Regions from separate parts of the Homo sapiens genome. Here regions 1, 3 and 4 are each linked to region 2. Evidence: fine-mapped expression QTL. A gene starts in region 2. Each other region holds a variant in brackets. All regions are shown on one strand. Distances are between the middles of the regions.

Region 1 (7,558 bases), 47 kb before region 2:
TGCAGTGGTATGAACATGGCTTACTGCATCCTCAAACTCCTGGGCTCAAACAATCCTTCTGCCTCAGCCCCCCAAAGTGCTAGGATTAATTTGTTTATATAGACAGGAGGAGTTCCAGAAAAAACATTTTCCTGGGGTCTGACGTACCTTAAGGGTGGTCTTGACCACTACCTGGCCAACAGTGCCATGGATTTCAAAGATATTAGAATACATTAAAAACATGGATCTTAGAATAGATGTAATGCAACATTTAGTCTCTCAGAAAAGGCAAATTTATTTCTTTCTCACTTGAGGTATTCATTGCAGATTGTCAGGATACTCTGCTCCACAAGGTCATTCAGGGATCCAGGTTCTTTGCATTTTCCTGTCATCTCTTAGGGCATCATTTTTACTAGCATGGCAAAGCTAGGTCTCAGGCAAGATCATGTTCTGGTTCAAGGGAAGGGGAAAGAGTAAGGATGAGACATGCCCACTATCTTTTTTTTTTTTTTTGAGTCTCACTCTATCACCCAGGCTGGAGTGCAGTGGCATGATCTCAGCTCACTGCAACCTCCGCCTCCTGGGTTCAAGCAATTCTCATGTCTCAGCCTGCCGCATTCCCACTATCTTAAGGCCTAGGTGTAATCATCTCTTCTGCCCATATAGTGCAAACTTAGTCATGTGGTCACACCTAACTGCAAGGTGTCCCCCAAGTGACTACTCACTCCAGGGCTGGGACTCACATGTACTACGATTTGAACTGCAAGGAAAATTGGGAAATGCTATCTCCAGCTGAGCAACTATGGACCCAACTACATATATGTTACTATGAAAAAATGGGAGGAAAAATCTTGGTAAAACTCTGGCAGTCTCCATTTTAGAGATCCATCTGAATGAACCATCTCAGATGCTAGTTTATCTTAGAGATACCTGAAAGAGTTCTTGTTTGTCACCTGGAGGTTGATTTGGACAATCATGGCACAGGTATTATACTACCACTCGGCAGAGTCTTCTTTAAACTTTTAGCTCTCACCTTAATCAATTTAAGAGTGAGCTTCTTTTTGGTATAAAGACTTTGGTAGGTCAGGTGTGGTGGCTCACACCTATAATCCTAGCACTTCAGGAGGCCGAGGTGGGCAGATCACTTGAACTCAGGAGTTCGCGATCAGCCTGGGCAACATGGTGAGACTCCATCTCTACTAAAAATACAAATAGTAGCTGGGTGTGGTGGTGCACACTTATAATTCTAGCTACTCTGGAGGCTGAAGAGGGAGGATTCTTTGAGCCTAGGAGGTTGAGGCTGCAGTGAGCTGAGATCTCACACTACACTCCAGCCTGAGCGACAGAGTGAGACCCTGCCTCAAAAAAAAAAAAAAAAAAGAAAAGAAAAGAAAAGAAAAAAAAGACTGTGGTAGCTATGTATTGCTTTTTGTCATCAAGAATCCTTTCACCTGTCTCCCAGTGGTAGTATGCTACTTTCCTCTTGGGAACCCCACTTCCCCATTCTTGATGTCCCACAGACAGAGTTGACTCCACTCCCAGATCCAGAAGTGGTTATGTGACTACAACCTGGCCACTTAGGCCATCACATTCCCCAGCCATGGTGTCTTGCTTGATGATGGATTCATGTTCAAGTCAGAGCCAGTTCAGTGGAATGAGACTTTTGCTGGGACTGCAAAAAGAAAAGCACTTCATGTTTTTTCCTCACAAGTCTCAGGCATAGGAAGAGGTGGGACTGGATTGCTGGCAGCCATCTTATCCCAACAAGAAAACGCTATGGAGAAGAGCAGCATCGGGGATAAAGATAAAGCCAAATCTTGGTGATATTGTTTGAATCCCTGGATCAAGCTTGGCCTGAACCAGCACAATGCCTAATCCCTGGTCTGCTTAGTTATATGAAACAGCATCCCAATTTAAAGTCATTTAGAGGTGAATTTTCTGTCACTTAGTGCAACCGAGAGAGTAATAACTGATGCGAAGGCCACATAGACTTGGCCTTTTTTTTTTTTTTCCTGAAGTATAAATTCCCTTAGCATCTGTGTGGCCCAGCACTACACTCTGGATCTCCTTAGCTGTCTGGTCACTGAATGGGGACTGCTACTTGGCCGTGATTCTCAACCAGGGGTAATTTTGCCCCCAAGGGACAGTTTTGTCATGGAGTTGGGGGAGGCGCTACTGGCATCTTGTGGATAGAGGCCAGGGATATTCCAAAACATCCTACAATGTACAGGGCAGCCCCGACAACGAAGAATAATCCAGCCCAAACTGTCATTAGTGCTCTGTAGATGGTTTTGGCTGCTATAACAAAATACCTTAGACTGGGTAATTTATAAACAATGGAAATTTATCATTCACAGTTCTGGAGACTGGAAAGTCCAAGGTCAAGGCGCCAGCAGATTCAGTGTCTTGTGAGGGCTCATTCCTCATACATGGTGCCTCCTCTGTGTCCTTGCATGGCAGAAGGGGTCAACAAGCTCCTTCAGGCCTCTTTTATAAAAGTCTTAATCCCATTCATGAGGGGAGAGCCCTCAGGACCTAATCATGTGGCAGGCAGATTGTCTGAGGTCAGGAGTTCGAGACCAGCCTGGCCAACGTGGAGAAACTCTGTCTCTACTAAAAAAAAAAAAAAAAAATAGCCTGCTGTGGTAGTGCACACCTGTAGTCCCGACTACTCGGGAGGCTGAGGCAGGAGAATTGCTTGAACCTGGGAGGTGGAAGTTGCAATAAGCCGAGATCACACCATTGCACTCCAGCCTGGATGACAGAGCAAGGCTCTGTCTCAAAAAACAAATAAATAGGCCGGGCGCGGTGGCTCACGCCTGTAATCCCAGCACTCTGGGAGGCCGAGGTGGGTGGATCAAGATGTCAGGAGATGGAGACTATCCTGGCTAACACGGTGAAACCCCGCCTCTACTAAAAATACAAAAAATTAGCCAGGCGCCGTGGCAGGCACCTGTAGTCCCAGCTACTCGGGAGGCTGGGCAGGAGAATGGCGTGAACCCTGGAAGCGGAACTTGCAGTGAGCCGAGATCTTGCCACTGCACTCTGTCTGCCTGGGCGACAGAGCGAAACTCTGTCTCAAAACAAAAAAAAACAAAAACAAAATAAATAAACAAACAAATAAATAAATAAATAAAGAGTGTTAGGAGCCTTCTCTCCTGTAAGCTGTGAACAACTAAGCTTGTTTAGGTCCTGAAATGTCACTGTCATTGTCAGCATGATAAATGCTTTGTGCTGTAATAATACAGAGAAACAGGATGTCTATTCCCCAAAGCCTCTGTGATGGAGAAGGTGGGCTTTCCAGAGGCTCTGACTGTGGAATGTGTCTAGAATCCTCTGCATGTTTTCCAGGTTCACCTCCACACCCTCATCTCTGCTCAGCCGGGTCCTTGCTAGGAGCAGGAACCTGCCTGGTGGGTCTCTGATGGCAGCCCCATGCTCTGCAGACCCCGGACTCTCCGCAGCCCCAGCTCCTGCCTTGTCCTGTTGTCTTCCACCAAGGGGCACCCTTCTTTAAAAAGCTGGACTCTTTTTTTTTTTTTTTTTTTTTTGAGATAGGTTCTTGCTCTATCACCCAGGCTGGAGTGCAATAGTGCAATCACAGCTCACTGCTGCCTCCACTGCCTGGGCTTAAGTAATCCTCCTGCCTCAGTCTCCTGAGTAGCAGGGACCACAGACACACACCAACACTCCAAGCTAATTTTTAAAAATTATTTGTAGGGATGAGGTCTCGCTATGTTGCCCAGGCTGGTCTCAAGCTCCTGGCCTCAAGGGATCCTCCTGCCTTAGCCTCCCAAAGTGCTGGGATTACAGGAGTGAGCCACTATGCCCGGCCCAAGACTGACTCTTAAAAAAGGACAGAGCTAGTCCCAAGCTTGTGCAAGGACAGTGAGAGAGGGGAGACTCAGAAGTAGCCAATTTTTCCCCCAGTAATTAATAAGACATTTAAAGGACTTATCAGGTCACCACAGCTCCATCATCCCTGGGGAATTGTTTGGTTTAGCAGAACTGTTCCCACCCTGCCCCCCTTTGCTTTCTTCTTTCCTTGCCCAGACCCCTCCCCCAACTTAGTTGACGTTGCACAAAGCTTTCAAAAAAACAAGTTTTGTTCCCAGGTCAGCTATATCCTCCCAGGAAGTTTCCCCATCCCAGGGTGAAGTCAGGCCAACACAGGGTGAAGAGTTAGGAGGTCAGGGGCGGGGGAGGGGCGGGTGTTTTGCACGGGACAAGGAGTTCTTTTTTGTTGTTGTTATTCTTTGCGTCATTTCCAGAGAGA[C/T]AGGAAGGAAAACATAGTAAACATTCTTCAATTCTGCACAAAAGCCGAGAAGGGATTTTCTTCAGGAACCTCCTTGTGGCTCTGCCATGGCGGGGAGGGTTGGGGGTAAGAAATATAAGACCCAATTCCCTGTGGAGGCGGGGATTCGGTGAAACCAATCCCTTGAATGTGGGGTGGAACCAACATGTAACTCAATTTGCTTTGGCTCTCACTGTGCATTTGAGCTAAAGCAAGGGAAGCATTTCCCCTTCCCCTGGCTGAAAGCTCAGCTGACCCCGAGGCTCTTCTGGTCATGCTTAGGTATGTACATTTTATGTCACGAAATCCAGTATCGACTTAGAGATTTAAAGCAGCCACCCAAAGATATTAAATGACTCTTGCATTTTTCTTCAAAGAGAAATCTTCTTCCTCCTGCCCTAGTTAAGGCCTTAGTTGGGGGCTGCCAGCTGCCAGGGACTGGGCATGGTGGCTTTTGTCTATTCTCTCCCGAATACCCCTCTCCCCACTTGCTGGTTGCTTTCAGAGTCTAAGTGGAGGTGGTGGGTGAGGATGCAGGGAAGCGGATGGGGAGCAGGGGAATAGGGCAGTTTTTACTTGACTGTATGATTGCCAGCTCTCTGGGTGTGGCAGATGGTGAAAGCTCTTTCTGGAGGGTTCCCTGTGTTCTTCAGAAGTTCCCATCTCAGCCAGGCTTGGTGGCTCACGCCTATAATCCCAGCACTTTGGAAGGCGGAGGCGGGCAGATCACTGGAGCCCAGGAGTACTAGACCAGCCCGAGCAACATGGCTAAACCTCATCTCTACCAAAAATACAAAAAGTATCTGGGGGTGGTGCTGCACGCCTGTAGTCCCAGCTACTTGGGAGGCTGAGGCAGGAGGATTGCTTGAACCCAGGAGGTAGAGGTTGCTGTGAGCCGAGTTTGGGCCACTGGACTCCAGCTTGGGCAACAGAGTGAGACCCTGTCTTAAAAAAAAAAAAAAAAAAAGTTCCCATCTCTAAGGTTTTCTCCTGAAGTTCCCTGTTCTGCACCTCCATTTCAGGTACAGCTATGACTCCATCTTCAACCCCTAGAAATCCAGCATCCTCTTCCAACTTCTTTCTGCTGACATCCCTTTGCCCTTCTCAGAGGCCCTACAGGACTTAAAATGACCCCCACCTTGGCCCTCTCTCCTGCCATGGTCCATCTGATCCACATGTGGCCCATGGGAAGAACTCACACAGCCCCTTCACTCATCCTAATGCAGTCCCTCCTGGCACAGTCCCATGGGGGCCCACAGCTCCAAGTGGCTGCATGGAAGCCCCCATCACTAGGCTTGAGTTGAAAGCAGTAGGGCCCCTAACTCCTTGGTGGGGTAGCTTACAGCATGGCTTTGCCCTTTCTGGAAGTTTCTATTTCCAAACTCTCCCCATTCTCCACACTCTATATTGTTGGTAGGCTGAGGGCCCTGAGTGCTATGCAACTGGTTCCCCATTATTTCCTTTGTAAATACTACATATGGGAGTCTGTCTCATGTTCAGTTTGCTATCTGATGATATTGTGGTAGCCTGCTTCCACAATGGCCCCTCATTGTCCCCATCTCCTGGTATTCACATCATTGTGTCTCCTCCCTCCGTGAACAGGGCCGACCCTTGTAGCCACTTGCTATTGCAGAGCTGATGGCATGCATCTTCTGAGGCTAGGTCATTGTTGTGTGTTTAATGATGTCCCCCAGAAGATATGTTGCAGCCCTAACCCCCAGGGCCTATAAATGTGACCTTTTCTGGAAATAGTCTTCGCAGTTGTAATCAAGGGTTGTTCTTGACTAGAGTGGGCCCTACATCCAATGACTGGTGTTCTCATAAGGAGAGAGAGACAAAGAGTAGACAGACACAAGGGAGAAGGCCGTGTGAAGATGGAGACAGAGATTGGAATGATACAGCCACAAGCCAAGAAACATCTGCGGCCGTCAGAAGTTGGAAGAGGCAAGGAATGATTTATTCTTTCCCACTCATTGTTTCACCAATGAGCACCTTCCATGTGCCACCGTTCTGACCCTGCTGACAATGTGGTTTCAGACTTCTGGCCCCCAGAACTGTGAAAGAGTAAATTTCTGTTAAGTTATCTTGCTTGTGGTACTTTGTTACAGCAGCCCTGTGGATCTAATATAGTCATAAGAGACATTGTGACCTCCTCCCTGCTCTCTTGAACCACTCATTCTGGGAGAAGTCAGCTGCCATGTCATGAAGCTACTCAGGGAGGTCCATGGAGAGGTCCACATGGCAAGGAACTGAGGCCTCCTGCCAGTAGCCAGCACCATCTTGCTGGCCATGTGAGCGTGCCATCTTAGATGCAGATCATACGGCCCCAGTCAAGCCTTCAAATGACTGCATCCCTACTTGACATTTTGACTGTAACCTCATGACAAACCCTAAGCCAGAACACCAGCTAAGCCACTCCCCAATTCCTCATCAAGAGAAACTGAGATAATAAATGTTTATTATTGTTTTAAGCTACTAAATTTTGAGGTAATCTGTTATGTAGCAATAGATAACTAATACTGATATCTGTCATATTGGGGCCTCAGTGTAACTTGGAACAGAAAGAGTTCCATATTATAATTCTTAAACATTACTTGGAATGGTTAGGGGCCCCAGTGCTATTCTCTCTGGGGATATTTCCAGCAATGGGCCCCACAGCCATTTATAGTGAGTTGTCCCACTTACTCTTTCACCAGTGAGCACTTTCCATGTGTCAGATGCCATATTAGAGACTGGGGCTATAGAAATGAACAGTCTTTTGGGAGGCCGAGGCAGGTGGATCACCTGAGGTCAAGAATTTGAGACCAGTCTGACCAACATGGAGAAACCCCGTCTCTACTAAAAAAAAAAAAAATACAAAATTAGCTGGGTGTGGTGGTGCATGCCTGTAATCCCAGCTACTTGGGAGGCTGAGGCAGGAGAATCACTTGAACCTGAGAGGCGGAGGTTGTGGTAAGCCAAGATTACACCATTGCACTCCAGCCTGGGCAACAAGAGTGAAATTCCATCTCAAAAAAAGAAAAAAAAGAAATGAACAGCCCTGTTCTTAATCACTTAACCAGTGGTCATTATGGTCTCTGCTAGTAGAGCACTATGGGCAAGAAGGACAGCACTGCTTTGCAGGGAAGGGAAAAGAGAGACATCACTGAGGCACTGAAGAGGAGAAGCATTCAGTGGTATGACCTTGAAGAGACAAGAAGAGGACCAAGTTCAAGAGTCTGCAAGAACAGTGGGAGGTAGAGCTGGAACTAGAATCCAGACACCCCACTTCTAGTCTTGAATTTG
Region 2 (5,570 bases):
AACAGTGAAGACAGAGACAGACAGGGAGATGGAGACATATGTGTGTGCATACCAAACATAACACCATGACATAGAATCCAACTTGCTTTCTCTAGCAGCCTGGCTGGAGGGTTGTGGCTAAGTTGCTATTTCCCTAATATTTTTGGTTTAATAAAGGGAAGGGCTGAATAAATATTAATGTAAAGAAATGGGTCACCCAACCGAGCCAAAGCTAAGGAGCCCCAGGCTGGCGGGGATGTCAAACCATTTCCCACCCCTATGTTTTGACTCACTCCAGGGTAGCGGTAGTGTGGGGAGGGCTGAAGTCTGGGAGAGTGAGGCAATGCTCCCCAAGCAACTCTTTGCAGAGGAATCACTGCAAAGTGCCAGCAGGCCAGAGAAAGTTTATTATTGCTCTAGAGTGCACAGTGAGCTCACTGTTTTGCAAAAACAGAAATCTGGCTGCTTTGAGATGAAAGAGGGGCTCCCTAGGGCTCCTCCTCCTCTTCTGTCCTTAAAAACTCGCCTTTCCTTTGCACTCAGGGGCCCCAGAATGAGTGGGAGATTGGGGCTCTGGGGAGGGTTGGATAGGGGAACAGGCTCTGGAAGTCAAGTGTCAAAATAAAAGTAAGTATCTCTTGTTGCTTCCACTGAACTTTATTGCAATTACTAGTAATAAGAGTGATAATAGTGATCCTCACAATTTATGCAGTTTACTAAGTACTGTCACATGTCAACCAGCAATAGTACCAACACTAGTATCAATACTAATAATAACTAACACTAACTGTGAGTCCAACACTGCTCTCCATTCTGTATGGTGTATTTAAGTTACAGTCTGGTAGTGACAGATCTACAACTTCTGTATATAGAACTCAGTGGTACAAATGCGCTTGGAAGGGGAGGCTGGGGGTTGGTTATGAAGGTGTATTGGCATAGTACTTACGTAAGATTGTATGTAACACCAAATCAACTGGGGCTGATGGGAATTTTGAGCACCCCAAACCACCTCTGCAAGCCTGAGCTTGTCAAAGACACCTCAAATCAGATTTACTGGATTCAAATCCCAGCCCCATCACTAATGGCTGTAGGCAAGTTATATAGCCTCTTTACTTTCCTGGTTTGTAAAATGGAGGTAAAAGAATCTACCCTGTAGATAATATTAAGGGTTTAATACTGTAATAGGCCGGTCACGGTGGGTCATGCCTGTAATCCCAGCACTTTGGGAGGCTGAGGCGGGAGGATCACCTGAGGTCAGGAGTTCGAGACCAGCCTGGCCAACATGGTGAAAGTCCGTCTCTACTAAAAATACAAAAATGAGCTGGGTGTGGTGGCGGGCGCCTGTATCCCCAGGTACTTGGGAGACTGAGGCAGGAGAATTGCTTGAACCTGGGAGGTGGAGGTTGCAGTGAGCTGAGATTGCGTCACTGTACTCCAGCCTGGGTGACAGAGTGGACTCTGTCTCAAAACAACAACAAAATACTATAGATAATATCCCCTTAATAATGTAGATAATATTAAGGGTGATGCAAGTAAAGCCACCTAGTTTACTAAGGTCCCACGGCAAGTCTAAGTAAGCGTTATCTCTTCTTATGACAAGAAACAAATTGAGGCCGGGTGAGGTGGCTCATGCCTGTAATCCCAACACTTTGGGAGGCCAAGGTGGGTGCATCACTTGGGCCCAGGAGTTTGAGACCAGCCTGGGCAACACGGCAAAACCCCATCCCTTTCCAAAAATACAAAAAAATTGGCCAGGTGTAATGGCACATGCCTGTAGTCCCAGCTACTAGGGAGGCTGAGGTGGGAGGATTACTTGAGCCTGGGAGGTCAGGCTGCTGCCAGCCGCGAGTGTGCCACTGCACTCCAGCCTGGGCAACAGAACAAGATCCTATCTCAAAAAAACAAAAAACCGAAGTTGAAATCTCAAACAACCCTAACAACCTGGGAGCTATCATTCCATTCTCTTTTCCATGGAAAAGAGAGATTTTGTGGGTAACTAGCTTAAGGGTGGAGAGCCAGTTAGTGATGGAGAGGAAATTTCAATCTGGTGGGCCACACTTCAGAATCCGAAATCCCATTATATTGCTTTCCCTTCTCCAGCCTTCCCTGGGATTATCTCAGTTTTCATGAAATAAAAAAAAAAAAAAAAGCAAACCCAATAATTAGAATAATCAATAGAAATGCCCCAACTAGAGCTATGACCAACATATCCATCGTGCCATAAGCAATACTGATGAGCAGTGATCTTGTAAGGCAGAAGAAATCACGGCCTTGGCCGGGCGTGGTGGTTCATGCTTGTAATCCCAGCACTTTGGAAGGCCGAGGCGGGAGGATCACCTGAGGTCAGGAGTTCAAGACCAGCTGGCTAACATGGTGAAACCATGTCTCTACAAAAATACAAAAAATTAGCTGGGCCTGATGGCGGGTGCCGGTAATCACAGCTACTTGGGAGGCTGAGGCGGAAGAATCGCTTGAACCTGCGAGGCAGAGGTTGCAGTGAGCCGAGATCGCGCCATTTTGCACTCCAGCCTGGGCGACAGAGCAAGACTCCGTCTTAAAAAAAAAAAAAAAAAAAAATCACGGCCTTGTTCCGCCTTCTGGGGCAACATGGAGTGAGATCACAGCGCCTGAGAAAGAACTTTGAAAACTGCGGCTGTGCTTTACAAAAATGTATCAGTATTATTAAATGCTGCCTCCACCTTTTAAAAATCAAACTCTAGAAAAAACACTCACCTGTTTGGCCTCTCCGGCCCCTCCCCCTCCCTGCCCTGAACTGCAGCTGTGCGCAGCCAGTTGCCTGTTTTCCTTAAAGGCCTCGGGGTGCTCGTATCTTCTTCAGACGTTCAGCCAAAATTTTTAAAGTGCGGCTGGGGGGAAGGGTAGCGCACTCTGAATTCATTTAGCTCTATCGTTGAAGCCCGGGTTCCTAGATCAGGGCACAAAAACAAATAGAAAAGACAATTTCTGGAAGATTGGAAAACAGCTAATTTTGCAGGTGCTTCGGCATCAGTGGTGGCGATGAATTTAACATCCATGCCGGGGGGGATAAGGTTCAACCGCAGATGAAATGGTTAATACCTTATACGAAATTCACGGCGAAAAATCCTGAAACAGGACATTTAAATTCACTGCCGAGGCTTGGGGGTGGGGTGGGGAGCAGGGATCGGAAACGACGCTAGTGGTTCTTAAATGCGTTTTTACTTGGGAATGCCCGGCAGGGAAAGGAAAGGTCATCGTCTGTTTAATTTCCACCCCCAGCTCTGGACTTCCAGCATTAGCTCGCCGGGCCTCAGCTGTTGTACACACACGGCGAGGGGGGAGGGGAGGGCGGAGGCGCGGAGGAGGGGCCGGCTGGGAGGAATCTGGGCGTCCTGCCGCGCATGCGCCTTGCCTGAGCAACAAGTGGGCTCCACAGAGGAAGTGTAAAGGGGAGGGGGAAGAACTGGTGCAGAGCATGGCGGTGACGTCAGCGCTCCGCCCGGGCGGCATCCCGCGCGGCCAAGCCGGGGACAGCGCGAGCCGCAGCCGGAGCAGGAGCGCCGAGACGCGCCTCCGGAACGTAGAGTAACAATCACAACCCCACATTCCGGGCGAGCGTGAGCACGAGCGGGAAGGGATGCGACCCGGGCCGAGGCGCCGCGCGAGCGCCCTGCAGCCAACGTGAGCGCCGCCAGCCGCGGCGGCCCGGGCGCCGGCCAGGCCTGGGGGCGGCGGGAGCCTGCGTGCGTGCACTCCTCTCCTCTGCTCTCGTGCGTCCTGGAAGCAGTGGCCGCGGCGGCTCCCTCCGGGGTGCAAACCCAGTCGCCGCCAGCAGAACGGCCGACGCTGCGGAGGGGAGAAGGTCCTTTCTCGGCTGCCACCCCCTCCCCCGGTCCTCCGGGGAAGCAGCGGCTTCAGCAAGATTGGACCCGGGCACCGGGTGGCACTGAACCCTCTGGCCCTCGCCCCAGGGGGCCCGTCGGGGAGAGGACGCAGCTCGTAGGGGGGTCCCCGGGGAGAGGAAGAGACAGCCCCTTTCGAGCTTCCACGCACCAGCCACTCCGGGGAGGGGGCCAAGAGGCAACGGCGGCCACCACCGGGCACCCTCGCCCCCTCCCCTCGGGCCGGGAGCTTCCAGCCCAAGTCTGCAGCACCAGGAAGAAGGCGCCTGAGCTCCCCTCGCGACGAGTCAACCGCAGTAGGAGGTGGGGGCGAAGAGAGGGCTGAACCCGTCCGCTGCCCGGGCGGTGGAGCCCCCACGGCGAGGCGCTGCGCCGGCGGTGGAGACTCGCGTTCCCTCCAGCCCCTGGGGCAGAACTTTCTCGCCCCCCCTCCTCCCTCCCCCGCAGTCGGACTCCCTCCCCAGCCGGCCAGTCCTCCCGGAGGAGAAGGCGCCGCGGAGACAGCCCGGGCGGGGGCCTACCTTCCCCAGGGCAGGCATCATGTCGGCGGCGCAGGTGTCCTCGTCCCGGAGACAATCTTGCTACCTGTGCGACCTGCCCCGCATGCCCTGGGCCATGATCTGGGACTTCTCGGAACCCGTATGCCGCGGTTGCGTCAACTACGAGGGCGCTGATCGCATCGAATTCGTGATCGAGACAGCGCGCCAGCTGAAGCGGGCGCACGGCTGCTTCCAGGACGGCCGCTCCCCCGGGCCGCCGCCGCCCGTCGGGGTCAAGACAGTGGCCCTGTCGGCTAAGGAAGCGGCGGCGGCGGCGGCAGCAGCGGCGGCCGCCGCCGCCGCCGCGCAACAGCAACAGCAACAGCAGCAGCAGCAGCAGCAACAGCAGCAGCAGCAGCAGCAGCAGCAGCAGCAACAACAGCTCAACCACGTTGATGGTTCCAGCAAGCCTGCGGTGCTGGCGGCCCCGTCTGGCCTGGAGCGCTACGGCCTAAGCGCTGCCGCCGCCGCCGCCGCCGCCGCCGCCGCTGCGGTGGAACAGCGCAGCCGCTTCGAGTACCCGCCACCGCCGGTGAGCCTGGGAAGCAGCAGCCACACCGCGCGACTGCCCAACGGCCTGGGGGGCCCAAACGGCTTCCCCAAACCAACACCAGAGGAGGGACCCCCAGAGCTGAACCGTCAGAGCCCCAATTCTTCTTCAGCGGCGGCGTCGGTGGCGTCTCGGCGTGGAACGCACGGTGGGCTGGTTACGGGGCTGCCCAACCCGGGGGGTGGCGGAGGCCCCCAGCTCACCGTGCCCCCCAACCTGCTACCGCAGACGCTGCTTAACGGCCCGGCCAGCGCTGCGGTACTCCCCCCACCCCCTCCCCACGCCCTGGGCAGCCGTGGGCCCCCGACGCCTGCTCCCCCAGGGGCTCCTGGGGGCCCCGCTTGTCTCGGGGGTACCCCGGGTGTATCGGCCACGTCGTCCTCCGCGTCGTCTTCGACCTCTTCGTCGGTGGCAGAGGTGGGCGTGGGTGCTGGTGGTAAGAGGCCCGGCTCGGTGTCGAGCACAGACCAGGAGCGCGAGTTGAAGGAGAAGCAGCGCAACGCCGAGGCCCTGGCCGAGCTGAGCGAGAGCCTGCGCAACCGCGCCGAGGAGTGGGCCAGCAAGCCCAAGATGGTCCGCGACACGCTGCTCACGCTGGCAGGCTGCACGCCCTACGAGGTT
Region 3 (6,034 bases), 67 kb after region 2:
GGAGAGGTGGCTTTAGCAGGAAATGGCATCTAGAAAAAGGGAGGGGAGGAGAGGGCCTGGAGGGCCCCACCTTGCACACTGGCAGAACATACCCAGGTGGGTGGTGTTCAGATCTGGGCATGTCTGTCTCTGGGAGCCAAAAAACTGGATTGTGGTTGGAGGCAGGCAACCGAGGCAGAAATGGGCCTGGGGGTGGAGAAAGAAGAATGGAGAGAAGTGGGAGCGTTTAATCTGGGGAAGAGAAAGACAGGGGTCGTGGAGGGAGGTGGCAGTGCTGTGGGTAAAGGCCTCCTGGACTGACTCTGCAGCGGGGTGAGGAAGGACTGGACACAGTCACTGCGGCCCCTGGGGAAGCAAAGGAACAGTGGCTAGGATTTACAGTGCTTTATTTTGGCACAAAATTAGAAATATTTCCTTAAAAGATTTAAATACATTTAAATAACACTTTGCCAAAAGGTAAAAAGATCACAGAAGAGGATATTTGGGGCCCACACTGCTCCTGAGAGCCGGCCTAGCCTTAGGCTCCTCCCCCAGCCTGCTACTCCCAGGCTCAGAACCAAATGCTTTTTGTCACTCTCCCTCCGCCACCACCACCACTGAAACAGTGCTCACCACTGTTCTCACCTACCTGGCCTTTCAGCAGCATGCCACACCATCGGCCACACCTTCTCCTGTGAGCTGGGTTTCCCCCCACCCACCCTCTCCAAGTGGTCCTCCGTGGACTGCTCCTTCTCTGGTCCTTTGCTGGGGTCATTCTCTGTCAGTCACCTCTTTTTTTTTTTTTTCTTTTGAGACAGAGTCTTGGTCTGTCGCTCAGGTTGGAGTGCAGTGTCGTGATATCAGCTCACTGCAAGCTCTGCCTCCAGGATTCAAGAGATTCTCTTGCCTCAGCCTCCTGAGTAGCTGGGATTACAGGTGCATGCCACCATGACCCGCTAATTTTTTGTATTTTAGTAGAGATGGGGTTTCTCCACGTTGGCCAGCCTGGTCTTGAACTCCTGGCCTCAAGTGATCCACCCACCTCGGCCTCCCAAAGTGTGGGGATTACAGGCGTAAGCCACCGTGCCCAGCCTCTGCCAGTCATTTCTATCCTGCGTTTCCCTGGCTCGTGTCCCAGGCCTTTCAATCATCCCATCTTCTCACTCTATACCCTGCCTCCGTGTGTACATGGTGACCAGACTAAAACCCTATCCCAGGCCCCTGTTTAGGGTCTCAGACCACCATAGCCAATGGCCTAGTGTCCCACAGACATCTGGAATTCAGCCTGTCCCAGAGGGACCTTGTTGTCTCCTCTCTCTATCTATCGCTCTTCTTCTTCCAACTCTTCCTCCTGTAGGGAACAGGGGGGACCATGGTTTGTGCAGGAAACCTGGAGTCATCCTTCCCTTCTTCCTTTCCTCTAACCTCCATATCCACAATCCTGTCTCCTAAATATATCTCTCATGTCCATTCACATCTTCCCACTGCAACAACCAAACTCTTTTTTTTTCTTTTTTTTTTTAGACGGAGTGTGGCTCTGTCGCCAGACTGGAGTGCAGTGGAACCCTCTCAGCTAACTGCAACCTCTGCCTCCTGGGTTCAAGCGATTCTCCTGCCTCAGCCTCCCTAGTAGCTGGGACTATAGGCGCGTGCCACCATGCCCAGCTAATTTTTGTAGAGACGGGGTTTCACCACGTTGGCCAGGATGGTCTCGATCTCTTGACCTCGTGATCCGCCTGCCTTGGCCTCCCAAAGTTCTGGGATTACAAGTGTGAGCCACCACACCCGGCCTGTAACAAACTCTTGACGGGTCTCTCTTTGTCCAGTCTTGCCTCCCACTTCCATTTATTATGTCTCTCTGGCTTGAGGCCCTTCCATGGCTGTGTATGGAACACCCCACACCCCTCACCCCCCAGCCACCAGCCATCTGAATGGACTTCCTCCTCAGCCAGGGCAGTCTAAAATTTAACCTGAAAGACTGGTTCAGGCCATGAAGGGAAGCCAAGCCTCATTATACCCCTAACATCAACATCAACACAAACCTTATGTCTGATAAGAAACATTTACAGTCCATTCTCTCGAAAGCCTGCTACTGGAGGCTTCAACTGCATGATAAAACCTAGGTCTCCACAACCCCTTATCATAGCTCAGAGATTCCTTTCTGCTGACAATAACTCTTTCAACCAATTGCCAATCAGTTTATGTTCAAATCTAACTATGACCTGGAAGCCCCCCACTTCGAGTTGTCCCGTCCTTCCAGATCGAACCCATGTAAATCTTTTTTTTTTTTTCTTTGAGATGGAGTTTCGCTCTTGTTGCCCAGGCTGGAGTGCAATGGCGTGATCTTGGCTCACTGCAACCTCTGCCTCCCGGGTTCAAATGATTCTCCTGCCTCAGCCTCCCGAATAGCTGAGATTACAGGCATGCACCACCACACCCAGCTAATTTTTTTGTATTTTTAGTAGAGATGGTTTCTCCATGTTGGTCAGGCTGGTCTTGAACTCCCGACCTCAGGTGATCCTCCTGCCTTGGCCTCCCAAAGTGCTGGGATTACAGGCATGAGCCACCGCGCCCGGCCAGAACCCATGTAAATCTTACATATATTGATTGATGTATTATATCTCCCTAAAATGTATAAAAGCAAGCTGTACCTTGACCACCTTGCGCACCTGTCTTCAGGACCTCCTAAGGCTGTGTCATGGGCTTGTCCTTACCCTTGGCAAAAATAAACTTTCTAAAGGGACTGGGACCTGTCTCAGATATTTGGGGCTCACAAATCTCCATCACCCTCAGGACAAAATCCAAATGGCTGAGCAGAATTTCAAAGTCCTTTTGGGTCTGGCTTCTTTCCACCTTTGGGGACCCCAGCTCCCTGCACTCCCTCCCACCCTGTGAGCTCCAGCCAGCCTCACCCAAATGGCACCACTCACAGGCTGTTCGCTTGGCCTGGAAAATCTCTTCCTTGCTCATGGCTGACTTCAAGTCATCTTTCAGACCTGGATCCAGCTTCTCTCCCTCCAGGGAACCCTCCCTGGCTCCCCAGGGCTGGCTTAGCTGTGCCTCTCTGTGGGCTTGTCAAGAACCATGTGTTCAATGGCAGAGCCTTCATCCATGTGTTTTATCACTTGATTGCATCTCTGTATCCCAGGTTTCTAGAAGCTCTGTATGAGCAAGAACCTTGCCTGTCTTGCACTGCATTCCTAGAGCCTGGAACAGAATGCATTTGATAAATATTTTTGACTATTGATGAATCGAGACTTTTGACGAATTGGGTGCAGCCCAGGACTTGGGCAATAGCCCCTGCCTTAAGAAAGGACCAGGGCTCAAGCTCTAGGGTGAGAAGCTGAAGCTGACAGAGAAGTGAGAGTGACTAGAAAGTGAAAGTAAAGCTGAGCAGGGAGGAAAGAACCCCACGGTGTGAAGTCTCTGGGGGAGGGACCAGGCCAAGAGTTCATTCAACACAGTTGAGTGAGGCTCCTGAGGAAGCCGACGGGTGCCGGGATAGGCGGGGGATGTGTGGGCGGGACAGCGAGCTTGACGAAAACGAGAGAAAATGTGTTTTGTAATTAGTCATTGCCCCCTGGGGTGAGGTTGGGAGTTTTCACCGGAGGTGGGTTGACCAGATTTGCAAAATGACAAACAGGGGCTAACCGCGGGCTGGGGCCGCAGCGGGGCTTCCGGCCCCGCAGGCAGAAGTCGAGCTTTCTAGTTTTTTCTCTGTCC[C/T]GCCCCCCTGCATTCAAGGTTCCGCCAAATAGTAGAAACTGGGAGGAGAAAGACTCTCAGGAGACTGCCCAGGGGCCAAACTGCCCTTTCTGACTCCGGCCCCTGCGCTCTGCGTGGTCTCATGGCCAGGGGAAAGGGGACAGGGTGGCCCTTGCTACTTGGAAGGGTCCATCCAAGGATTTTGACTGACTTAACGCTGTGGAGGTTCTGGGGAAAGTTGAAAACATTCTGAAGATGGGGGATCTGGATGAAAGCTACCATCCCTCTTTTCCTCCTAATGAAAATAGCAGGCTGGGTGAGGTGGCTCACGCCTGTAATCCCAGCACTTTGGGAGGCTGAAGTGGGCAGGTCACCTAAGGTCAGGAGTTTGAGACCAGCCTGGCCAACATGGTGAAACCCCGTCTCTACTAAAACTGCAAAAGTTAGCCAGGCATAGTCTCAGCTACTCAGGAAGCTGAGACAGGAGAATCACTCGAACCCAGGAGGCAGAGGTTGTAGTGAGCCGAGATCGTGCCACTGCACTTCAGCCTGGGCGACAGAGCTAGACTCTGTCTAAAAAAAAAAAAAAGAAAAGAAAAAAAAATAGCAAAGGGAATGGAGCACATTTCGGTGTGAAGGTGTGAAGCGTATGGAAAAGTGGAGGTCAGTGGTTCCCCTACAGGCACTCCTGGGGTGCTGCAACCAAATGCTAGGACAGAGACCCCCACCCCCACCCCACTGCCGACACATACACAAAGGGCACACTTTGGTCTCCACTCCTCTATTTTCCAGAGCAGTGGCTTTCGAACATTTGAAATCAAGACCTGCACTAAGAAATGCGTTCCTATCTCAACCCATTACTCAGACAAGCATACTACCCTGAGGCAAAAACTTTATGAAATTAAACGTTCCTTTTAACCTGCACTTCTATTCTTACATTCTCTTCTATTTCCTTTTTTTAAAAAAAATTCTGGCTGGGCGTGGTGGCTCACGCCTGTAATTCCAGCACTCTGGGAGGCCAAGGCATGCGGATCACTTGAGGCCAGGAGTTCGAGACCAGCCTGGCCAACATGGCAAAACCCCGTCTCTACTAAAAATACAAAAAATTAGCCAGATGTGGTGGCAGGTGCCTGTAACGCCAACTACTTGAGAGGCTGAGGCTGGAGAATCACTTGAACCCAGGAGGTGGAGGTCAGTGAGCCAAGACTGTGAAACTGCACTCTAGCCTGGGCAGAGACTAGAGACTCTAGCCTGGACAGAATGAGACTGTCTCAAAAACAAACAAACAAAAAAATTCTGTGTATGACTATGATCCCTTAACTTGATTTCATGACCCACGAATGGATCTCAACCTACAACTGGAAAAACCCACTACTCTGGAGGAGCTGATTCCGTACTCTGCTGGATCTTCAATTCCTGACCGCTGGAAATTGGCTGCAATTTTCCTGGTGAGTTCCTCCCTCCATGTTCTCCTCACTAATACACCCTACACCAGACCTCCAGTCCTAAAAGCCACCACCTGCTTCACGTCACCACACCTGTGCCAATCAGATTTCCTCTGTTCCCTCTTGGACCTTCAGGGACCTCCAGGATAAATGCCAGGATCCCAGTTACTGGCAGACTGAGAGAAGGATGACAGCCCCAAAAGATCACGAGGTTCCTATCTGTTCATATTTGGTGGGCAGCTTTCGTCTGCAAGAACAAAATACAAGCCGGGTGAGGCGGCTCACATCTGTAATGCCAGTACTTTGGGAGGCCGAGGCAGGCGGATCACCTGATGTCAGGAGTTTGAGACCAGCCTGACCAACATGGCGAAACCCCATCTCTACTAAAAGTACAAAATTAGCCAGGTGTAGTGGTGCATGCCTGTAATCCCAGCTACTCGAGAGGCCGAGGCAGGAGAATCGCTTGAACCCGCGAGGCGGAGGTTGCAGTGAGCCGAGATCGCACCACTGCACTCCAGCCTGGGCGACAGAGAGAGACGCTGTCTCAAAATAAATAAATAAATAAATAAATAAATCAATAACAAAATACATAACTCAAGCAATTTAAACAGTGAGGGGTAAAACTGAAATCACATACCAGGAAGCCCAGAGGTCTGCGGTTCCAGGGTTGGTAAATGAAGTGACCACTCTATGTCTATTTCTCTCTTGTCATTGACACCCTTTGGAAGTGTCTTTTTCTACCTTAGTCTCAGTATGACAAGAGTGCTATGTCAGGGGGCTTTTGTAGGTAGCAGAAGGGAAGGGTGAGGCCAGGGTTTCAGCTGGCTGGGCAAGTGGGTGAGTCACTAAGTGGCTGGGCCCCTTTAGCCCCATGTAAGGACAGGCTGCAGCCACCCACTGCCCGCCCC
Region 4 (7,558 bases), 20 kb before region 2:
AAGAGGAATGGCTCCTGCCCGGGTTCTTCTCCAGTTCCTGCCTCCTCATGGTTTGTCACTGTTTCCCAGAGCTCTGGGCAGACACCTTGGGCAGGCCTGCCAGCTCCATGCTGTGCCACAGGGCAGCCAGGGACACTCCCTCCTGGTGTCAATTCCAGACACCTGGCACACACTGGGGAGTGTCCTGGGTGGTGTTGGTGGTGGTGGGAGGAGAGAAGGCTTCCTAGCATGTCACAGTAGGGCCAACTAGCCCACCCTCTTTGCCATTTTACATGCAAGGAAACTGGCCCAAAGGGGAGGCCCCTGGCCCAGGGGCTTGTCACGGCAGAGCCAGGGCTGGAACCCAGCTCTCTGGATTGCCAGTCTTTCTTCAGGCGCTAGCAGATCATGTTCTCTGAGGCCTGGAATTGCCTCCTTCCTCACATCCACCTCTCTCCCCACCCCTGCCATGTGCCATGAGCAATCCTGCCCATGCTGCCCTAGGCCCGGCTCCCTGCCCCTCTTCCGGGGAGCCTTTGCCATCCTGAGTTAGAACCACTTGTTCTCTTTAGTCTGTAGCAAGTGTGTCTGTCTGTTCCTGGGTGACTCGCCCCATCTCCGCAGCTGATCTCTGAAACAAGTGCCAAGGGGTAGGACAGTACAATGGACGAGGCACTGGGCTTGACTTTGAACCTGAGTGGGCCTCCAACTTGCTGTGTGACTGAGGGAGGTCATTTCACCTCTCTGGGCTTCTATATCCCCCCCTGGTCTGGGTCAGGGTTGTTTGGATGTTATCCATGGAGTCTCTGACTCAAGGCAGAGTGGACAGGACCCTATCCCTGCCCTAGATTAAACTGCAGCAGTCTTTTTTTCTTTCTTAAATACTTGGGCTTTGGAGTTCTGAGGCACCCAAGTTTAAAGGCCATTCTGAGGTCCTTTCTACTCTGATCTTGCTCTCGGTATCTCTCACCCCACCCCACCATTAGCCAGGAGGAATATGGCATCTTACATAAAGTATTCTCAATAAAGATTTGGTGAACAGACTTGAGCGTCAGTGGCCAGGCGCGGTGACTTATGCCTGTAATCCCAGCACTTTGGGAGGCTGAGGTGGGTGGATCACCTGAGGTCGGGAGTTTGAGACCAGCCTGGCCAACATGGTGAAACCCCGTCTCTACTAAAATTATAAAATTAGCCGGGCGTGGTGGTGCATGCCTGTAGTCCCAGCTACTTGGGAGGCTGAGGCAGGAGAATCACTTGAACCCGGGAGGCAGAGGTTGCAGTGAGATGAGATCACGCCACTTCACTCCAGCCTGGGCGAAAGAGCGAAACTCTGTTGCCAAAAAAAAAAAAAAAAAAAAAAAAGAATTGAGCATCGAAGCAGGGCTGTGCTGAACCCAGCTCAACAGGGGAGGGGCAAGCAGGAAAGGAGACCCTGGAACAAGCTTCTAAGGTGAAGGCGGCCTTTGAGAAGGCAGCTGAGGCTGCCTTGAGTTTGTGGCTTCTGCTCCCCATCTCTTCCACGTTCCTTCCTGACTCGTCCCTGAAGTGAGCCACCGCCTCTCCCACGCCCTGCTGTGGGTGCCACAATGTCCTTGCACAAACCCTGCCCTGTCCCCTGCTGCCAGGGCCGCCCACACAGCTGGACGGACATGAGTCTGGCAGACACTGGTGTGGCTGAGCTCTCCTGGAACGAGGTTCGAAAGGGCTGTGGGGCTGGCAGGGAGCAACACTCCATGGCCTGGTCAGCTGGCCAAAAGCCAGGCAGCCCCCAGAGGCAGCCCCACCCGAGCTGGAGAGGTCTGCTGGGCTTCTCTGGGTCTCTCAGGGAGGACGGACTTGGTGTGCTTTTGGCAAGTCAAAGGCCCTGCTTTACGTTGTGTGGGTATGATGGTTCTGCTTTCAAATCTTGGCTCCTCCTGGAGCTACAAATTATACGCTAAAGTCTGGGCTCAGTGGTTCATTCCTGTAATCCCAGCACTTTGGGAGGATGAGGAGGGTGGATCACTTGAGGCCAGGAGTTCGAGACCAGCCTGGCCAACATAGCAAAATCTCGTCTCTACTAAAAATACAAAAATTAGCCGGATGGTGTCACACGCCTGTAATCCCAGATACTTGGGAGTCTGAGGCACAACATCGCTTGAGCCTGGGAGGTGGAAGTTGCAGTGAGCAGAGATCGTGCCACTACACTCCAGCCTGAGTGACAGAGCAAGACTCTGTCTCAAAAAAAAAAAAAAAAAAAAAAAAGTACACTCTTGCCTTTATCCTGTAGCAGGGCTTCCATGCCCCAGGGTAATTAAGGACCACCCTAATTGTACAAGCGTGGCCACTTACAATTAGAAAAGCCTGTATATGCAATGTCTAATTCTGAGCCGGGTAAGAAAAGGCATTAGAAGTAAAAAGGAGAACCATTGTTACAGCCCCAAGAAGTTCCATTAGGACATTTACTAACATAATGTTTGAATTTCATCGTCATTGTCATCTTCATCGTTCTAGCACCCACCCACTTCTGAACTGCTCTAACCTTTATTACCATCTGCCATGTTCTCTGGACCACTCTTCATAGTCATTCGTGCATTCATCCCAGAACATCTCAGCAGGAGAGTCTTCAATCTTTGAGAACCTACTATGTGCCAGACCCTGTCAGGCACTTTTTCAATTTTTTTTTTTTTTTTTTTAGACAGAGTTTTCCTCTTGTTGCCCAGGCTGGAGTGCAATGGCGTGGTCTCTGCTCACTGCAACCTCTGCCTCCCAGGTTCAAGTGATTCTCCTGCCTCAGCCTCCCAAGTAGCTGGGATTACTGGTGCCCATCAGCATGCCCAGCTAATTTTTATATTTTTAGTAGAGACGGGGTTTCACCATGTTGGCCAGGCTGGCCTAGAACTCCCGACCTCAGGTGATCCACCCGCCTCAGCCTCCCAAAGTGCTGGGATTATAGGCATGAGCTACCTCGCCTGGCCAATTTTACTTTATTTAGTCATCACAGCAACCCTGCGAAGTTGATTGTTAGGATGCTTTTGGCTGCAAGTCACAGAAACCTTGGTTCCACTGGATCGAGCCAGGGGTCCCTCACTGAACAATGAAGGAATTGATGGAAATAGTCCAGATGTGGGTGGCTCCAGGGCAGAGTAATCCAGCTGCTGAACTGTGCCACCAGACTAATGTTCTTTCCACATTTCCTTCCATTCTATCATCTCTCTTTTTTTTTTTTTTTTTTTTTTTTTTTTTTGAGACGGAGTCTCGCTCTGTTGCCTA[C/G]GTTGGAGTGCAGTAGCGCGATCTCCGCTCACTGCAAGCTCCGCCTTCCGGGTTCACGCCATTCTCCTGCCTCGGCCTCAGCTGGGACTACAGGGGCCCGCCACCATGCCCGGCTAATTTTTTGTATTTTTAGTAGAGACGGGGTTTCACCATGTTAGCCAGGATGGTCTCGATATCCTGACCTCGTGATCTGCCCACCTCGGCCTCCCAAAGTGCTGGGATTACAGGCGTGAGCCACCGCACCCGGCCTCCATTCTATCATCTTTAGTGTGTTGACTTAGTTCTCTGAATGGCTGCCTTCATCATAGCAAGATGGCTGCTGTAGCCCCAGCCATCATCACTGCAGACACACATACAGCTACAGAAAGACAATTGTTTGGCTGGGCGCGGTGGCTCATGCCTGTAATCCCACCATTTTGGGAGGCCGAGGTGGGTGGATTACCTGAGGTCGGGAATTCGAGACCAGCCTGGCCAACATGGTAAAACCCTGTCTCTACTAAAAATACAAAAATTAGCTGGGCATGGTGGCAGGCGCCTGTAATCCCAGCTACTTGGGAGGCTGAGGCAGAAGAATCGCTTGAGCCCCAGAGGTGGAGGTTGCAGTGAGCTGAGATCCCGCCACTTCACTCCAGCCTGGGTGACAGAGTGAGACTGTGTCTCAAAAAAAAAAAAAAAAAAAAAAAAAAAAAAAGAAAGAAAGACAATTGTTTCTCTCTCTCTCATGTTTTAAGATTGAGAAAATATGGCCAGGCGCGGTGGCTCACGCCTGTAATCCCAGCACTTTGGGAGGCCGAAGCGGGCGGATCACGAGGTCAGCAGATCGAGACCATCCTGGCTAACACGGCGAAACACCGTCTCTACTAAAAATACAAAAAATTAGCCGGGCGTGGTGGCGGGCGCCTGTCGTCCCAGCTACTCGGGAGGCTGAGGCAGGAGAACCGCGTGAACCCGGGAGGCAGTGCTTGCAGTGAGCGGAGATCGCGCCACTGCACTCCAGCCTGGGCGGCAGAGCAAGACTCCGTCTCAAAAAAAAAAAAAAAGAAAAAAAAAAAAAGATTGAGAAAATATGAAAATATTTCCTAAAACAAGCCCCCAACTCCCATGTCTTATTCACCAGAACTCGGTCACAGATCCATCCCCAAAGTGTTAGCAAGGGGGATGGGATGCTAAGATTAGCTCAGACTAATTGGGATTTCCCCCCAAGGCACGTGGAACTGAGGGGTGTGGGACTCCTGAAACAAATTCAGGGCACTAAGGAAGAAAGCAGGAGTGACTACTTTTTAGCAATCAACAGTGTCTGCCTCATGGGTAATTAATGTTATCTTCATTTTACAGGTGGGAAAACTGAGGCTGAGATAAAGTAATGACTTAATGGCACAGTAAGAGACCAAGTTACGATTTCAACCCAGAAATACTTGATTCCAAAGCCCCAACTCTACTGCATGATATACTAAGCACTATTATATCTCTACTTCTGAGTAGAATGCTCCAAGATTTTGCTGGGACAGGAAGGGTATAAATAGTACATACATACATACACTTCCATATTATTTTGGTGACAATAAAATTACGTCATAAAAATGTATATTTAGGCATGTTTAATTGACTAGCCTTTATTTAGGGGCTTCTAGAGGCATTCGGGATAGAATGGCCCCAGCATTGAACTTCATTGAGTCCCCAGTGAGGCAGTGTGAACAGATAACTACAACTTTTTTTTTTTTTTTTTTTTTGAGACAGAATCTCACTCTTTCTCCCAGGCTGGGGTGAAATAGTGCGATCTCAGCTCACTGCAACCTCCGCCCCGGGGTTCAAGCGATTCTCCTGCCTCTGCCTCCCGAGTAGCTGGAATTACAGGCGCCCCACACCCGGCTAATTTTTGTATTTTTAGTAGAGACGGGGTTTCACCATGTCGGCCAGGCTGGTCTCGAACTCTTGACCTCAGGTGATCCATCTGCCTCAGCCTCCCAAAGTGCTAGGATTACAGGCGTGAGCCACCACGCCCAGCCAACTACAACTCTTTGTGATAAATGCAGATTGCAATTGAAGCACAGAGCTGGGAAATGCCAGAGACTATTTTCACAGGAAAGGTAAAAACTGAGCTGGGTTTTGAAGGATGCATAGAAGTTTGCTCAAAAAACAAGAGGGAGAAAACATTCTTTGTAGGTAGAGAAAAGAGCCCCGTAAAGGCACGGGGCTTCAAAGTTCATATTGTGTTTAAGGAACAAGAGGAATTCAATGTGGTTAGAAATTAAGAAAAAGGAAGAGGCAAAAAGAGGAATTGGAGGCAATTTCCCAGAGGCCTTGTGTTCCAAGCTAAGGAGTTTGTCTTGATCCTGTAAGGCGCCTGGAAAATTTTTATTTATTTATTTTTATTTTTTATTTTTTTGAGATGGAGTCTCGCTCGGTCGCCCAGGCTGGAGTGCAGTGGTGCGATCTCGGCTCACTGCAACCTCTGTCACCTGGGTTCAAGCGATTCTCCTGCTTCAGCCTCCTGAGAGGCTGAAATTACAGGTGCGCACCACCACGCCCAGCTAATTTTTGTATTTTTAGTAGAGACGGGGTTTCACCGTGTTGGTCAGGCTGGTCTCAAACTCCTGACCTCGTGATCCACCCTCCTTAGCCTCCCAAAGTGCTAGGATTACAGGCGTGAGCCACCACACCCTGCCTTAAAGCAATGTTGTAAGGCAGGTTTAGGCTAAATTACATGAAATTGCCAATATTTGATGTGTCTAACAATGAAAACAGATGAGGAAGCCTGGAGGTGCAGAAACTTGGCACAGGTCACAAAGTCTCATGAGTCAAGAATCAAACCCAGATCTGTCTGATAAGGCCTCTAGAGTCAGGCAACCCTGAGTTCAAACTTCAGCCAACACTTACTAGCTGTGTGTCCTAAGATAACGTTATTTAACCTTTCTGAGTTTCAGTTGCTTCATCTATAAAATGGGGACGATAACTGAATCCACTTCATTAAGTGTGGATTAGAAGAGATAATGCATTGAAACAGCCAGCACAATGTCCAACACATAAGAGGTGCCCAATAAATGTCAGCCTTGCCTATCATCATTGCTATTAATATCCTAAAGTCTGGGCTGTTAAGCACCTTCCCAACCTGCTGTAGGAAAGATGCTTTCCGGAGTCGGTATGTCCCTGGGTAGAAAGGAAGGAGATTTTACTGCCAGAACCACGACAGTGCTGCTGGTAACAGTCTTCAAACTAACGGGGCGAGGAGAGCTGGGAGCTGTGTCCTCTAGTTTCTATCACCACAACCCTCTGATTGTTTCACCTCTCCTGAGGTTCTCCTGGCCACAGTGGGTGCAGCAGCCCTACCATTGCAGAGTGGCTGGCAGCTCTGCCCTCGCCCAGGGCATTCTCCTTAAGGAGCAACTTCTGTCTCCTTTGCCCGTGAACCAACCTGAATGAAGTGTATTTCCAGGAAATATAAGCTGCCTTTGCTTTCAAGAGTCACATCTGGCCAGGTGCAATGGCTCACGCCTGTAATCCCAGTACTTTGGGAGACCAAGGTGAGCAGATCACCTGAGGTCAGAAGTTTGAGACCAGCCTGGCCCAATGGTGAAACCCCATCTTTACTAAAAATACAAAAATTAGCCAGGCATGGTGGCGTGCGCCTGTAATCCCAACTACTCGGGAGGCTGAAACAGGAGTATCACTTAAGCCCAGGAGGTGGAGATTGCAGTGAGCCAGATCATGCCACTGCACTCCAGCTTGGGCGACAGAGCAACACCCTGTTTCAAAAAAAAAAAAAAAAGCCACATCTATCAGTGATGGGTCCTGCAGGTCCCCCTTGCTCTTGTACCTCATCTATGCACACCTCCCCAGTAGCTTTCTGGTTTTGTGTATAGACAGATGTTTCTGATATATGCGTGCATGCAGTTCTGTGTGTGTTTTCTGGGCTCAAAAGCATCTGCGCTGGCACAGGCTGAAGGCTGGCACCACCCTTGGCAGCAATAGCCCAAGGACACTTTTTTGTCCATTGCATTCCATGTCTGGGTGGGGCCCCTGCCTGCTGGGTAAGTATTGACTCCCTGCACTTTTCCATCTATATCTTGGAGTGTTCTTTTGGCAGAAACTACAAGTGCTGCTAACTTGAGAGTCCAAACCCCAGCACCCAGCTGTTCTCAGCATATCTCCCTGAGATGGGGTGCTTGGGCTCACGGACTGACATCATGGCAGCTGCCATAATAAAACACTGAAGGGGTGGGGAACAGGCAGGCTCACTAAGCCACACCTTGCTTTCAGAACTTTTGGATGTCCACAGATCTTTTTAGCACTGTCTGCCCTCTTTTGTGGCTGCATTCTTGCACAAGAC

The links.
Region 1: its variant is fine-mapped to the expression of IRF2BPL in whole blood (TOPMed, PIP above 0.99).
Region 3: its variant is fine-mapped to the expression of IRF2BPL in whole blood (TOPMed, PIP above 0.99).
Region 4: its variant is fine-mapped to the expression of IRF2BPL in whole blood (TOPMed, PIP above 0.99).

Annotation. Positions count from the first base shown.
Region 1 is chr14:77,073,102-77,080,659 of GRCh38, reverse strand. It overlaps LINC02289 (long intergenic non-protein coding RNA 2289), which reads left to right and starts at 4,469. Exons shown (of 3, transcript NR_110553.1): 1 at 4,469-4,555. RefSeq lists a silencer at 4,320-4,614. The variant C/T (reference allele first, on the strand shown) is at 4,256.
Region 2 is chr14:77,026,623-77,032,192 of GRCh38, reverse strand. It overlaps IRF2BPL (interferon regulatory factor 2 binding protein like), which reads left to right and starts at 3,485. Exons shown (of 1, transcript NM_024496.4): 1 at 3,485-5,570. The coding sequence starts at 4,401. It overlaps LOC107984638 (a long non-coding RNA gene), which reads right to left and starts at 4,725. Exons shown (of 4, transcript NR_190002.1): 1 at 4,382-4,725; 2 at 2,713-2,905; 3 at 2,457-2,532; 4 at 621-2,366. LOC105370579 (a long non-coding RNA gene) reads left to right here. Exons shown (of 2, transcript NR_169510.1): 2 at 1-634. RefSeq lists an enhancer at 1,912-2,432 and silencers at 3,196-3,325, 3,526-3,735, 3,856-4,355.
Region 3 is chr14:76,959,483-76,965,516 of GRCh38, reverse strand. It overlaps LINC01629 (long intergenic non-protein coding RNA 1629), which reads right to left and starts at 5,879. Exons shown (of 3, transcript NR_133913.1): 1 at 5,764-5,879; 2 at 2,910-3,186. RefSeq lists enhancers at 3,337-3,631, 3,332-3,731, 3,742-3,791, 3,842-4,051, 3,836-4,371 and 2 more. The variant C/T (reference allele first, on the strand shown) is at 3,703.
Region 4 is chr14:77,045,430-77,052,987 of GRCh38, reverse strand. The region is part of intron 1 of LINC02288 (long intergenic non-protein coding RNA 2288); the gene reads right to left. Among named protein-coding and RNA genes, the nearest start is that of LINC02288, 8.2 kb to the right of the region's middle. The variant C/G (reference allele first, on the strand shown) is at 3,232.